Regions from separate parts of the Homo sapiens genome. Here region 1 is linked to region 2. The links come from fine-mapping of genetic effects on gene expression. Tissue or cell type: whole blood. Region 2 holds a variant in brackets; the other region holds the start of a gene. All regions are shown on one strand. Distances are from middle to middle.

Region 1 (8,000 bases), 64 kb after region 2:
CTGGGCAGAGGCTTGGTTCCCAGGACAGAGGTTGCTCCATGGAGAAGTGAAGGCACAGAAGTTCAACACTGCCCACTGCATGTTGGTGGGGGGTTGAAAGACAGAGGGAGAGATCCCCACACAACCCAGGAGGCCTTTCCCACCCCTTCAATCCCTGCTTCTCACACAGCAACAGTCTCCAGCTGAGGCTGGAAAGGCCAATGATGCTGATCACGTTGAGGTCCTGGAGACAGACAGAGAAGTCAAGCCCCTTAGCCTCATTCCCCAATTTGCCCAAAGGAGTAGTTTTTTCTGCTTTGAAAGCCTTTGAAATGAGGGAGTTGCCGGCATCTCTCGTGGTCAGTGGACATTCACTACACACTCTGGAGTTAGACAGATCTGGAAAGGAATCTTTGCTAGCTCTGACCTTGGGCTAGTTGTTTAGCCTTGCTGTGTTTCTGTTTCCTTATATTTAAAATAGTCTTCACTATTTCATAGAGTTGGTATAGAGGTTTCATGAAACAAAAGATGGAAAGAGCCTAAAAAGGAAGCTGGACAGTAGTCAATAATAAATAAAAGTGAGTTACTGTGAGTTACCTTTCCTGCACAGAAGTCCTAACTATCTCACACAATGCTCTTACTGGCTTTTAAGCCTGTTTTCACTTGGTTGAGCTTAAAGCCCAGGGGACAACCAGAGTCTAAATAGTGTGAAAATTCAGCAGAGATGTGGTCCAGTCTTAGTCTTACCTTTTTAAGATAACACTTTTCTGGGAAGGAAAAAACACCTCACCCATACCAAGCCACCAGCACATTACTCAGTACCAGGCCACAGGGGATTTCCTCTTTCCTACCTTGTGATCAAATGCTTCTGGGAGGATATATCTTGAAGGCAGGCAATGGCCACCAGCTTGGGTTGACATAAGATATAATGAGAAGCAGGACCTCAATGCAATGCCTGAAAGCCCACCATTCAAGTTATTCTAATCATTCTTTGTTGCTAAGCTTTACCCTCCAGCTTTCTCCTTTCCAAACATGAGTGGTCTTGGGCAGCATAAAATAATTTGACTTGGAGTGAATTAGAAGTTTCACCAACTTTGCAATGTGGCTAGAACCCTGCCCTGCATTCAGATGAGGTGCACCTCTGCAGATAAGAGGTGACAAATGATTCCCTGACCACTTAGCCTCACAGACCCAGGCAAGGAGGCAGTAAAGCCCTTCATGTGCTCCTCCACACTCCTAAGTCCAAGCTCCCCATCCCAAGCTCCAGTTCCACAAGGGCCATCCCTGATCAGAGATGTTGTGTTCCATACTGGGGGAGGGCTCAGATCCAAGAGACACAGAGAGCCCTGAGTTGGGCAGGGTCACATGAGGAAGGGGTGGCTGCGGGGCCAGGGCCAGGCTTAGGGCAAGGGTCAAACTCCTTCGGGCACCCAGACACTTGAGCTTTTGAGACAGGGAAGAGCTGGCAGCTGAAACACTCGGAGCAGGGGGTGTTTATCAATGGCCCAATTCATTCTCAACTATCCCCCTTGTCTGAGCCAGCACAGAGATGGGCATTATGTCCCAGAGCTACTAGGAAAAAAACCTCCAAGACATCGTCACCAATTAGAGTTCAAAGGTACAGAAGCCAAATTGAGACATATGAGTTGAAAACCAGATGACATATTTGAAATTGAGGATGTCCCAGGAAAATCCAGTGTGATTCCCATCCCCAGAGACCAATAGAATGCTTAATTGCTGGTTTTTCATTTATTTGTTCTGATTTCCTTCAACAAAGGATGTGGAAGTTTACAGTTAAAAATATGTATTCTATAAAGTTGATAAAGCAGAAATTAGAAGTCAAAGCAATGGTTCCAACTAACATAGTTATTACAACAGAGCCATATGATGGACTAAGAGCTTCCCAGCAAGCAGAGTGACAAGGGAAGCACAATGGGAAAATAATTCCTTCCCCTGCCACCTTTATTCTGCTGGACTGACCATAGCCTGCCCTTTTTTAACCATTCCCAAGGGTCAGGTGTAGGATCAGGCCAAAGAGAAGCTAGATCCCAGCATTCCCCTCAAAAAATGGTTGAACCCAACTTGCTCTCCTGCATATTAGAGGAGTTGGTGGGTGAGAGCTTAGTCACCCCTTAGACTAAACCATAAACACTAAGAAAGAAGAAACTCAGGCCAGGCATGGTGGCTCACACCTGTTATCCCAGCAGTATCGGAGGCCTAGGCAGGCAGATCACCTGAGGTCAGGAGTTCAAGACCAGCCTGACCAACATGGAAAAACCCCATCTCTACTAAAAATACAAAAATTAGCTGGGCATGGTGGTGGGGGTCTATAATCCCAGCTACTCAGGGGCTGAGGCAGGAGAATCGCTTGAATCCGGGGGGCAGAGGTTGCAATGAGCTGAGATCATGCCACTGCACTCCAGCCTGGGCGATAGAGCAAGACTCCATCAAAGAAGGAAGGAAAGAAGGAAGGAAGGAAGGAAGGAAGGAGGGAGGGAGGGAGGGAGGGAGGGAGGGAGGGAGGGAGGGAGGGGGAGAGAGAGAGAGAGAGAGAGAGAGAGAGAAAGAAAGAAAGAAAGAAAGAAAGAAAGAAAGAAAGAAAGAAAAGAAAGAAAAGAAAAGAAAGGAAGGAAGAAAAAAAGAAAGAATGGAAGGAAGGAAGGAAGGAAAAGAGAGAAAGAGAAGGAAGGAAGAAAGGAAGGGAAGGAAGGAAGCTCAATACCATCTTTCTAACTTCCCAGCTGAAAGAGCACATTTAGTCTGGGTACCTCACTGAAGTATTCAGAAGAGAATAGCCAGGATGGGACAGGTCTAGAAGCTCTACTAAGAAGAATAACACCACCACTCAGCTGGTATTTTAGGGCACCTACTCTTCCAAGCGCTGTATAGTGTGTGCCCAGTGGTCACCAGGGGGAGGAGGTCATGGAGAAGATTCTGTCCAGAAAAAAAGATAACCACTGGAAGAAAGGAAAGGAGCAGAGCAAATGCCATCCCTCCACCAGCCTGTGGGAGGGAGACTCAAAGTAGGGTTGAACGAAACCAAAGAAGAGAAAGAATCAACCCAGCTCAATTCACTGTCCTCCCTGCCAAATGGTTGCCTTGGGACCCAACCCAGAAAGGTCACTGCTTCTCTGCAGCAAGTGTAATCCAGAGTATAAACTACAGCATGGAGCAAATTATATATGCTGAGCTCCATGTCAGATCCCAGCCTGACCTGGCTTGCCTTCCAAAGGCAGTGTTTGGAAGTTTTCACTTCTAAAAGGGCGAACAGTGCTTCTAAGTCCCAGAGCTAAAGGGACAAGATGCTCTCTGGCTGAGCTCCATGGACAGCCTCAGTTTCAGATTCAATGGAACCCCTCAAAGGCACCACATCACCATCTGCCCTGACCCCCACAGCCAAAGTCCCTGACTTAAAATATTCCCCACTGAGGCCAGTTTCTTGGACCCATTGTCAGAGGTATAATATATAGATTAAAAGGGGCAAAAGTGGGAGGAGGCTAGCGGCTGAGGGTGGGGCCACACCAGGGATACATTTGCGCATATGCATTGAACAAAGTGGGTGCATGTTGCATACATGTCGTTGTCCACAGGTATACATGTTGAAAGTGTGAATGGTTGCATGGCTATCCTGAGAAGAGTGTGTGCAAGACTGGTGCACATGGACAGGAATGTGTGTATGCTGAGCATGTAAGCGTGGGTGCACTGCGAGTGTTTGTGGGTGGCCATGGCCATATGGTCCACTCATCCCCTGGCCTCCTGTCTCTTCTCCTGGTTTAAGAGTGGGGTCTCCCAAGCTGTCTCCCTGACCCTGGTCTAGCCAGATGGGGTTAGTCAGAGCCACATTCACTCCAGTGTTGTGTGAGGGCTCTGAGCTTCTGTCCTTCTCCAAGCCCTGAGAAACCAAAGCTGAATGACCCACAGAGAAGACACCCCAGCTGGGACAAGTCAGGTCACCTTAGAAAGCCTGAGTTCAGATAACACTCCCTAGCCCCAATTTCTGCCTTCCTGGGTTCACACTGGCACATCCACTCATCCACATGTGGACTGGCTCAGCCCACCTGGGGGCCTTCCTGCCACACACACAGGCATTTCCACAGGTACAGACACAGTGCACCCAGGGCAGCAGGTGCCACACAGGCAAATACCTGTGGCCCACTCCAGGCCACCACACACTCTGACACACTCGTTCACCCACACTCGCACCCTGGGGCACATGCTAGAAAATTCCACATGTGGACATCCCATCCAGACACACTCCCTCACACTGGCGCAAGCTCCCCTTCACAAGCACTCCCACTGACACACTTACACCTACTATCCAATTAGTGACAAACCTGCACTGTTCCCAACTAGGCTAGCAGAGGCATCACCAGCCCCCTGAATCCAGCTAGGGGAGCTGTCTACTTACTTAGCGTGCGAGACAGGCTGGTAGTGCGAGCGGCCAGTGGTGGCGGGGCGCAGCTGGAGCTCCAGAGGCCGCGCGCAAAGTGGCCGCTCTGCCGGCCCAGCCCGAGAGGCCGCCCCTGGCCCCCGCCCCACCCCCCGCCCCGTTCTCCCCCGCCCGCCCTCTCCGAGGCGGTCGCAGCCTCCCAAGGACCTTCCACAGCAGCGCGCTCCCTGCCAAGCCTTGGTCCCGCGTCAGCCACGGCTGCCTGCTGTCTCCGCGGGACTACGAGGCTATTTCGGTGCCCCTGGGGGGGGAAACATGGCCCTCCCTCCCATCTGCAGGAGCGCTGGAATGGGGACGCGGTCAGGCCTAATTAGAGACCGGGCTCCCCCGGGCCAGGCGGCAGGCACCAGGGTGATCGCCCGGGAGCCGCGAAGCCGTCCAGGCGGGGTCGCCCACAAGGTGCCCCGCATGCCAACATCTGGAGAGGGGAAGGGAATGTGCCGCGATCGTTTCCCTTGGAGCTGAAACAAAACAAGGAGGGATTTGGGTGCAGTTCACTTGCTAGGAAGGAGGAAGCCACCCAGCTTTGATAGACCCCAAACGCCTAGAATGAGACGGTTTATTCACCGCAGGTGCTTCCCTCTGGAACCTTGCTCACACACACCTAAGTCACCCTCCACATCTTGGACCTGCCAAAAATGACGAGGGGTTGTTGCAGAAACTCCTTCTAACTTCGGCACATAAGATCAGACCCCACCCCCCACCCCCCACCCCCGTCCTGGACTCTGTCAAATAGCTAAATCTAGAGGAACTTGATTCCTACCCAAAAGCTCGGGAATGTGGCATTTTTGACCTGGAAGAAAGCTTCCAGATCATTTCATACAACTCCCCCTCCCCCGCCTCCGCCATCTTGCTATGAGGCTCCCAGAGCCCAGAGAATCTTGACCTATTCTTGGAGGTCCTCAAGCAAAGGCAGCCCCTGGTCTCCCTTGAGCCCTGTTCCAAAGCTTGAACTCTCTTACTGACAGAAAGATCTCCTTGACATCTAACCTAAATCTCTCACATGCAAACTATGTCAATTTGCTCACAATATGTATTCAGGGAGAAGGAGCTCAACTCAGTCCCCATGACAAAACGACCACGCCGAGGTCCCACTGCAGCCTTCTCTTCCTTAATGCTAATAATCTCTATTTCTTTTTTCAGGCTCTGGCTGAAGCTAACTGCTGCTCCCTGGACTCGAACACACACAGTAGCTCTCTGATATTAACTCTCCTCCTCAGCTCTCTGGGGGCCCAGGGCTCAGAAGGTGGCCAAATCATTCCTCTCAGACAAGCCAGCTTCAACTCTACCCTCCAGTCATCCAGAACAGCCTGATTCTACTCCCCAAGTTCCCTGAGAGGGGCCTCAGTTCCTGTTTCAACAAGTGCTGTCTAGGGCTGGGGACAGGGCTTGGTGCCGCCTGGCTGGGCATTACCACTGAAACCACAGTCTTACAGACTGTTTGCAGAATCTTCTCTCTGAGTCTGTTTCCGGTAGGGCAGGTGGTATGATAAGAATAGTCTCAGCCGGGAGTGGTGGCTCACGCCTGTAATCCCAGCTCTTTGGGAGGCCAAGGTGGATAGATCACAAAGTCCGGAGATTAAGTCCATCCTGGCCGACATGGTGAAACCCCATCTCTACTAATAATACAAAAATTAACTGGGCGAGTTGTCATGTGCCTGTTACCCCAGCTACTCAGGAGGCTGAGGCAAGAGAATAGCTTGAACCAATGAGTCGGAGGTTGCAGTGAGCCAGTGAGCCAAGATTGTGCCACTGCACATCAGCCTGGCAACAGAGTGAGATTGCATCAAAAAAGAAAGAGAGAGAGAGAGAGACAGAAAGAAAGAAAGAAAGAAAGAAAGAGAGAGAGAGAAAAGAAAGAAAGAGGAAGGAAGGAAGAAAGGAAGGGAGGGAAGAGAGGGAAGGAAAGGAAGGGAAGGAAAGAAGTCTCCAATTCTTCCTCAAAGAAACCTGTTTTGCATCCTGCCTCTACTACTTTCTAGTGATGAGTCCTTGGACAAATCACTTAACCTCTCTGAGCATCAGTTTTCCCATATGTACATTGGGGAACATAAAAATCTCTGCCCAGCTCATGAGGTTGTTGAAAGTATGAAGTGAGGTCAAGGATGTAAAGCACCTGGAAAACTAAGATATTTTATTATATGCTAGAAATAGAATGAGGCTTAGATCATAAACAGATCGATGTTAGCAAAAAAGCCTCAAAGTTCTTTTATTTCCAGGCCCAAACTCTGTGTCTGGGTTTCAGGGTAAGAGAGGAACAGACTTGGTTTGTTAGATGTTCCCTGGAGGCACTTGGCATAAATGCCCCCCCCCCACTTCCCAATACACACACACACACACACACACACACACACACACACACACACACACTCACATCCACCTTCCCAGATACATACGGCACAGCACAGCCTCCTGGACTCCTGGACTCCCCATAGACCCCAGCCACCTGGACCTTCGCTGGCCGCCTCTCCATTGCCAGGGGGCCGTCTCATGGCTCCAGCCTTGGCTGCAGCGACTCCAAGTCTCCTTACAGAGGCCCCTGTGAACAGCTTCTTTCCCTTTGCCCACCCTTCTGGGCCATGGCCCTGAGAAGGCCTGTGACTCAAGGCAAAGCTTGTCCAAGGCAGTTCAGTACTGAGGCTGCCCAAGGGAGCTCAGAGTTGAAGCTTCCTCCCCCTCGACCCCCTCCCCTCTGTCTGCCTGACTTCTCAATGCTGTGCTGTCCTGCTTAATTCTTAATGGAAATTCCATCCCCGGCGCCGGCCCTAGCTGGCTCAGGGAGTCCAGGCTTGGGCCAACAGCAAACTCCACCAGAGAGACTGGGCCTGTCTGGCTATATAAACACACCTAAACACATATATACATGTGTGTATACACACACCAGCAGCAAGACATGCTCAGAGACATTTACAAACTCAGATATTCTCATCCAGACACATCCAGACACAAAGATAATATACATTCTAATCATTAACATTTATTGCATATACGAGAACTTCATAGGTATCAATTGCTCTAATCCTTAGAACAGTACTAGGTTCTGGTATTATCCCTATTTTACACATGAAGAAACTGAGGCCCAGGGAGGGCCTCAGTAAGTAACTTACCCAAGACATTGATAATAACAGCCTAACACATGAGCACCAGGAACTGTGCTAAGAAGCTTATGTGCATGTTTCATTTTGCTGCCATAGTAACCTTTTATAAAAGTTATTATTATCCCCATAATACAGACACAGAAAAGGGAGGCCAGGTGGTTTAAATCACCTGTCTGTGGCCTCACAGCTGGTGAGATGGAGACTCTACACAAATACACATGGGAATCCTTATGGATGCACAGAAAGACACACAGGTAAAGACACATGCACATGCTCAGAGGTGTACCCACAAATAGCTTATTTCACCTAAACCAAAGTAGGCGCCTCAGGACTGGTCCAGAGCTGTATCAGGCAAAGGTCCCCTCCAGCCTGACTCCACATTCTTCTCCTGTCCAGATGGCCTATCCCAGATCCACCAGCTTCACACATCACTTTAGGAAGGACAAGTTCAGACCTAAATGGAGGAAAGACTT
Region 2 (8,259 bases):
ATAAATTGAAAACTTTTATAATCATCCCTCCAACAACACACATACACACACACACACATACACACACTACAATATATCTGAATTGAGAAGCTGCTCACACTTGGAAAAATACACAATTTATTTTTTTCTGGTTTTTTTTTTTTTTTTTTTGAGATGGAGTTTTGCTCTTGTTGCCCAGGCTGGAGTGCAATGGCAAGATCTCGGCTCATGGCAACCTCCGCCTCCTGAGTTCAACCAATTCTCCTGCCTCAGGCTCCCAAATAGCTGGGATTACAAGCATGTGCCACCATGCCTGGCTAATTTTTTTTATATTTTTAGTAGAGACAGGGTTTCTTTATGTTGGTCAGGCTGGTCTCGAGCTCCCAACCTCAGGTGATCTGCCTGCCTCGGCCTCCCAAAGTGCTGAGATTACAAGCGTGAGTCGCCACACCCAGCCAAAATACACAATTTCTAATGGCATACTCAACATAAATATGTATAAAGCATGGAAATAATTCATGGAAGCTTAAGGGTCTTAATGGTTCATGAATGAAAGCTTTTCCTTTGCTTGATTCTCCACTCCCATACCAAGATTTTTGTATGGCAAGGCAATGTACTATAAGATTTGGGATGGATGAAGAGTATGCCTTTTGGAAAATAATAGAAGGCCTATAAAAAACTCAGTGAATTATTGGGAAGATCATTTTTAAGAAAGAAAACAAATGAAAATTGAAGATCTGGAAATAAGATTTCCTTAAAACTGTATGTGCTTGCATTTCTCCTGGGAAATCTTTGAGAACCTGGGGAATGCAGTGCATTTGAAATGGTTTGAAGACTACTGGTCTGTCACTTCAAGAAGCCCAAATCAATGCATGCTGGAGTGGCAGAAACACAGTGTTTTCAGGGAGCTAAAAATTAAGATGTTTTGAATATGCTGAATGGGAAAGAATGCAAATCAAGCAAGTCCTAGTAAAGAAGTTGCAAATGCCTGACTTTGCAGGAAAAGGAAAACAGTTCAAATGCCCGTCAATGAGAAAGGAGGCATTTTTTTCCCCATATATGGTAAACATAGTACCACAATTAACCTGTGGTGGATGTTTTCCCCCAGTGAGTGTATGTTCACAAATCTTTATAGACTATAGACAACTGAAATAAACTGACTGACATCCTACCAAGGCTGCAACCAAGACAGTCTCAGTCACATCCTTTTTTTTTTATTGGCTACAGATGAGCATGTATCTGTTAAGGCCTTTGGCAACCCTAAGGATGACATCCTGGGACAACAGGTTGCCTGAAGTTCCTGGAGTTCTGTAGGCATTGAGGATCAGCTTATTGTAACTTTCTCAGAATATATGTGTAGTGCTGTGATAGTATTATGTATCCAGAATTAAGGGCTTTTTGAACCCTTTTAATTATGGCTGGGAAAGACTAGTACAAATTGAGAAGTCCTGAAGGAACCCCTCCCATTATTGAAGAGACAGCCTGGACTACAGCTGCTGAAGGAAACCCAACTCCCCACACACTGGAATGAGGCCCTCCTGGCTGAGATGAACAGAGTATGAAAATTGAAGAGATTGTACTAACCTGAGAATTTGGGACTTTGGATTATTCCTAAAAGTAAAAAGATTGAAATTTGCTTCCTATTATATTTCCCACTCTCCCACTGAGCAGATTTTGCTCAGCCATGTTGCCCAATATAGGTAAGTAGAAGCTGCAACGAGAGTAAATGGCAATACAAAGATAATCCAAACATACTTGCATGATGACAAACATAAAGATTTCCAAAATTTTGATATGCTCCTATCCCATTTTAAAGTTACCTGGGAAAAAATAAAGGAAAAGAAAAAACTTAAATCCTTTTACTCTAGGAATAATCCAAAGTCCCAGATTCTTGGGTTAATACAATCACTTCAATTTTTATACTTTGTTCATCTCAGCCAGGAAGGCCTCATTCCAGTGTGTGGGGAGCTGGGTTTCTTTCAGCAGCTTTAGTCCAGGCTGTCTGTACAACAATGGGAGGTTCCTTCAGGACTTCTCAGTTTGTACCATTCTTTCCAACCATAATTGAAGGAGTCCAAAAAGCCCTTAATACTGGGGTGAAGGGGGTGGGGAGATTTGTTCCTCTGCTCAAGAGCCCACACGACTTCTTAGTGCTAAAAGAATGTTTCTCGAATTGCATTTCCTAAAACACCAGCATCTCAGAAGAAGTAAATAGGTGCTTTAATAATATTTTTAAATCTGTGACCCTGAAAGTTTGGAATATGTTGCTTAACATTCTATGCCAGATACTGTTCTAGTCACTAGAGATATATGCACGAGCAAAACAAACCAAAACCCCTGCCTATGGAAGCTGCAGGTCAGACAAGAAATACTATAAGTGCTTGAGGACCTTTTGGAAGATTTGCAAAGCAGACCGGCACATCATAAGACAAATTTTGATGTAAAGAAATAGATTTGATTTCATTTACATCAAGACGGCACAAATGTAAGATCCTGGTATAATTACTAACATCCTAAGGAACAATATTTGAGTCACTAGTTTAAGAAACACATGCTTACAACACTGAACACAAGTTACCCTGTCTTCAGTCAATATATCTCCTGATGTCACTGCTGCCCTGTATGGAAACTTTCTAATATAAAAAGAAGCCAAAGATCAGCCAAAAATATATTATGAGCATGGTAAGCTCAGCCCTTAAAAGGGCATGGAGGAAATCATGGGACTTGCTGGCAGGGAAGGGGGAAAGCACCAGGAATGGGGGTTATCAGGAAGAAAACTAATATGCAGATGAATGGAGGACAACACTCTGTGGCCACCACCCCCCCCCGCCCCCCCCCTCACTCCTACCATGAGAGGGAGGCCAATAAGGAACCCACTCTAACAGGGCAGGAGCTGGTCTACTCAGCTTCCAGGCCAGGCATCAATGAACCAGGTGGTCAGACCTGGCAATAGAGCAGGGAACAGCTGGGGAAGTAGGAGCACCAGATCAGGAATTTCACCCTGAATATGATCAGAATGAAGAAATAGCAGAATGGATTCAACTATACAGCCCAAAGGCCAGGGAAGTAGGCTCCAAGCAAGCCCAGGGAGATTTTCCCAGGCTCTTCTGACCTAAAGCATCAAAGATACCCTGCCTCTTTGCTGCCTCATAGAAAGCACTGATGACTAATTCCAAACCCAGCTGGCTTTCACTCACAGTTTAACACCTCTTTTTCAGCCCTTTTTGTTTGTTTGTTTGTTTGTTTTGTTTTGTTTGTTTTTTTTGAGACGGAGTCTCACTCTGTTGCCCAGGCTGGAGTGCAGTGGCGCGATCTCCCCTCACTGCAAGCTCCGCCTCCCAGGTTCACACCATTCTCCTGCCTCAGCCTCCTGAGTAGCTGGGACTACAGGTGCTCGCCACCATGCCCGGCTTATTTTTTTTGCATTTTCAGTACAGATGGGGTTTCACCACGTTAGCCAGGATGGTTTCGATCTCCTGACCTCGTGATCTGCCCGCCTTGGCCTCCCAAAGTGCTGGAATTACAGGCGTGAGCCACTGCGTCCAGCCATTTTCAGCCCTTTTAATTGAACCTGGCACTTTCAGGAAAGTGGTCACAAAAATGGCATAAAAAGCAACAGCCAGCACCTGTACCCCTGCTCAGAAGTTGCTCCAGGTCTCCCTCTCCACCACTAACTCCAATATTTCTTGCTCATCAGTCCCTCGACTTTTTTGTCCATTTTGGTCCTTGTGTCCCTTGGGTCCCTCTGGACTTGATGGTTGATCACCACCTGCCCCTGCATGTGATTGTCAGCACTGGCTCATCAGCTCCAAGTGCTGCCCCAGCACCCCAGCCTGTGGCCCTTCCTTCCCTTTGTCCCTGTCAAGACATGGAGAGTGGCCCTTGAGGACCTTCCTGTTGTTGGGGTCGGGGGTGATAATACCCAGGACCTGCTGCACTGACATGGGGGCCTGTGGGAGGAGTGGGGGTGAGGCAGGACCAGCATGTCAGTCAAGCCAGAAGGGCCTGCACCAAACCAACCAAACACTCAGGAAGGAGAGAAAGCAAACCCTGGGCTCGGCAGAGAGGCTGAATTTGGAGAGGAGCCGACATGGAAAGAGATTTGTTATTTGTGGTAGGCTTTTATTTGGTGGTGGGAAAAGAATGGCAAATATGTAACACAATATTTCTGTAACTATAAATAACCATAAATACCTTTCATAATGAAAACCTTATGGAATCTGCTTTACTGGGAGGTTTTTAAAATAGCAAAGGGTAAGGGAGGGAAATAACATGTATTTAACCCACACTATGTGCTAAACACCTTCCATATGCCTTTGCTTAGTCCTCTCACTTTTCTTCTGGAGAAGGTTTACCAATTTATAGAGGAGGAAAACGAGGCTGAGAGAGGTTCAGGAACTTAACTGAGGCTCCATGGTGAACCACAGATAGAAAGTAGATAGGCCAGGCTCCAAATCCCTCCCTCTTTCTGGAATCAAGCACAAGCCTGCCTAGAGGCAGGGGCTAGACTATATGATCTTTCTAGATTCTTCTCTGTTGTCAGGATTTCTAGAATTAGCTTATTCCCTGCAGGTGCCTCAATTCTTTCAGGATAGTAAGGACCCATCGGGTAAACTGTGAACATTAACTCAACAGAGAAGAGGGGGATCAGGTTCCAATTTACTCCTGTGGCCTGACAGTGTTCTACCCAGGAAAGCAAAAGACCTCAGGGAGCTCAGGTTTTATCTTCAGGACACAGGCTCTGGGAAGGGTGGGAGTAATAATGAAAGTAGAATTGGGAGATGCTGGGCTCTGCCACCATCTTGCTGTGTGACCTTGGATAAGTTTCTCCCCACTCTGGGCTCCAGTTTTCACATCTGGAAAATGCAGAGTTGGGTTAGGTGCTCAGGAAGCCTCAGCCCAGCTCTGACAGTTTTGTTTCACAA[AT/T]GCTGGAGTTGACTTTGGTGGTTTGAGTAAGATGTTTCCCAATAAAGTCCACATCAGTAGCTTCCCCAAGCCTGGCTCAGCCCCTCTTTCTCTCCTTTCCTCCAAGGGTCCACACAAGCACCCCTCCCTGCAGCCCAGCCTGCACTGACCTGAACCTCCCGTGTCAGGGCCAGCTCCAGCAGCTGACCAAAGTGCTGGCCCAGCATGCTCAGGGTCTCACTCACGCAGGCCTTCATTGACTTCAGGACATGCTCATTCTCAACCTGAAGGCACCTGAAGAGAAGAAACCATGGGGTGGGCCACTGGAAAGGGCATGTGGTCAGCCCAGAAATGTTGCACGGGCCAGAACTGGACCTGCTACAAGCCTGGTGTGTGCTGAAGACATTGGCAACTGGGAGTCAGAGATGGAATATTCCACAGCTGGCTTGCCCACTGGTCTCTTAGTGTGCAGAGATGTGCTGGCCTGAGATGAGGACTACCAGTCCACATCAACAGGAAGAAAGGCCATCAGAATGTGGAAAATCTATACCTCTGGGCTTCTCCCTGCAGAATCTGCCATCATTGCAGCCAGGGTCTATCTTCTCTGTGATGTTGGGGTGGGAGATGAAGGGGCAAGAAGCTTCAAAGAGAGGTGCCAAGTGCCAGGTATTGCTAGTGAGCTCTGAAAAGGTGGATAGCAATGCCTGTGGCCCTTTAAGAAATGGCTGCCTAGAGTGTGCAGAGAGCCTTGAGAATTTTCTTCCCAGACAAGAAAAACAGAGGGGGATCAGGTTCCAATTTACTCCTGTGGCCTGACAGTGTTCTACCCAGGAAAGCAAAAGACCTCAGGGAGCTCAGGTTTTATCTTCAGGACACAGGCTCTGGGAAGGGTGAAGGAAAAAGTCAACACACACCTGGGTGTGTATACATGTGAGGCTGAGTGTGTGTACATATCTGAGTATAAACATATGTAGGTTTATGTGTGTGAAATATGGAGGAAAGGGTGTGAATGTATTTCTGTGCTGGTCCAAGCATGTGTTTATATATCTGTATATGAGAAAGTGAGTGTGGGCATTGAAGTCTATGTGTATGTGCGTGTGTAAGGGTGTGAGTGTCGGCTTTCACCTTGCCTTGACTCTTGCCTTGACTTTGGGGATCTGTGGGTCTTCCCAAAGCTGTGGGAAACCTTTTCCTTGTTACCAACTCCTAGAAAATCCTCTTTCTTCCTATGCCCAGGCCTCTCCTCTGCCTTTTACCCTATCCCTAGGGCCTGAACATGGGGCAGAAAATTTCAAGAGAATATTTTAAGATTTCTGATAAAAGTCAGAAAAAGGAAACTCTGAAACCACCACCACGCCTCCCATTCCCATTCTCCCTCTGGGAGAAGATACCAGCCCCTTCTCCTGCCAGAGGTCGGGTGGGCAGACCCTGGGAGATCTATGGTCCAAATTTACCTCTCTGTGACTGCCGAGAGCTCCGAGCATTTCTCCATTAGCAGCTTCTCAATCTGTAGAAAAATAAGTCCATTTTATTCAACTCAGTAAGCATTAACTGAGGACCAACTGCTGTGCTGAGCACACGGGGACATTAAACATGAAGAATCAATTAATGTGACTTGGGGAACAGGCAGTTAAAATATAACACAGTGTGATACAGGTGGTGAAAGAGCTCACGGTAGGCTGCTTTGGGAGTATAAGAAAATGAAACTGAGCAGTTATTTATGCTGAGGAAGCTGGGAAGCTTCAGGAAAGAAGGGGCATTTGAGCTGGGTTTTGAAGAATGAAGAGAAGTTTTAATGTCTGCAAAGCTAAGGAAGGAAAAGTTCGAGGCAAAGGGCAAAGCACTAATGTGAAATGAGAATGATGAAAGAGAATTAATAACAAGGGAGATTTTTAATGGTTCACCTTGGGCTTTGAGAAGAAGATTCAAAGTCATGGGCTGTGGACTCAGAAAAGCTTAGATTGGACCCTACTTATTACACCATTCACTGCGTAACTTTAAATAAATTATTTGGCCTCTTAGAACTTTTGTTTCCTCATCTATAAAATAAAGGTAATCCTAACATTTTTAATCAATTGCTTTAAGTGTTTTGCATATAACAATTCATCTAGTCCTCACAACAAATTTATAAAATAAATTATATTATTATACCTTTTAGGATGAAGGAACTGGGACACAGAGAAGTTAAGTAACTTGCTGAGGTCCACATAGCAGAGCTAACATTTCAACCCAAGCAGTCTGGCATTAAAGTCAATATATTCAACCACTGCACAGCTTCTCAAAGTAGTGGCACCTACCTCACAGGTTGTGCAGGTTAAATGAGATACATGTAAAAAAAAAACACCTAGCACAATGTCCACCACATAGTAGGCACTCAGTAAAGATTCCACTCTCTTTCTTTCCTCCTTTACTGGAAGGGGAGAAAGGCTTCTGGAGCAAAAAAGATTCAGACACCACATGATTCAAACCCACTCTTCTCTAAAGCACCCTGACTTCCAGTTCCCGCCCACTCCTATCCCAGGGCAGCTGACCTCGCCCATTTCCTTCAAGGAGTTCCTGCTGACAGCACTGTACTCGCTGACCATGGAGCGGGCATGGCAGGTCAGACGCACGCTCATGCTGTGCACCCGTGCCCAGCGGTCCTGGGCCAGCTTCTGCCCGATCCTGCGCAGCTCTGTGCTAATGACCCAACCCCGTTTGAGCAGCAGCTGCAGGGGGTCTCCAGGGCCAGGGCCACCTGCCAGGATGAGGTCACCCTGTGCATCCTCTTCCAGGCTGATGGGCTTGGCCTGCAGGACACACATGCACTCGCACTCGGTCATGAGCTTCAGATCTTCCATCCAGCGCTGGACTGAGTCCACCTGCATCAGGTGTAGCCTGCAACCAGGAAACAGCACCACGATAATTATCAACACCCCATGATTTCCAAAGGTCTCAATTCTAGGCCATCTGATATTTACTAAGCACCTATTATATGTTTAGCAGTGTTTCTCCCATTCATGCACCTTGATATTCTCAGTCATTTCTCATTCTCTTCATCTTATGGATAAGAAGTCTGAAGCATAAAGTTTTAAGGGCAGATGACCAGACTAACAAGCAACAGGTAATTATGTCTGACAGAGTAGCCAATGATCTTTACAATAAGGGGGAAATGGAAGGGTGAGGCAGGAATATTGCTTGAGGCCAGGAGTTCAAGACCAGCCTGGGCAACATAGCAAGATCCCATCTCTTTAAAAAAAGTTAATGGAAATAGCCTAAATATCAAATAATGGTTACACTAAGTGAGCTATGGTATAGCTATGATTATGTAGTACGCAATTATTTAAAATGATGCTTTCCAAAAGTTTATAGCTAAGAAAAATGTGTGTGCTAATA

Evidence for each region. PIP is the estimated chance that this variant, and not a neighbour inherited with it, causes the effect.
Region 1: it holds the start of INSC, and the variant in region 2 is fine-mapped to the expression of INSC in whole blood (TOPMed, PIP above 0.99).

Annotation. Positions count from the first base shown.
Region 1 is chr11:15,111,391-15,119,390 of GRCh38, reverse strand. It overlaps INSC (INSC spindle orientation adaptor protein), which reads right to left and starts at 4,468. Exons shown (of 13, transcript NM_001042536.3): 1 at 4,388-4,468. RefSeq lists enhancers at 4,761-5,294, 5,946-5,995.
Region 2 is chr11:15,175,243-15,183,501 of GRCh38, reverse strand. It overlaps INSC (INSC spindle orientation adaptor protein), which reads right to left. Exons shown (of 13, transcript NM_001042536.3): 3 at 7,416-7,761; 4 at 6,339-6,391; 5 at 5,055-5,178. Among named protein-coding and RNA genes, the nearest start is that of INSC, 64 kb to the right of the region's middle. RefSeq lists enhancers at 7,038-7,559, 7,560-8,083. The variant AT/T (reference allele first, on the strand shown) is at 4,905.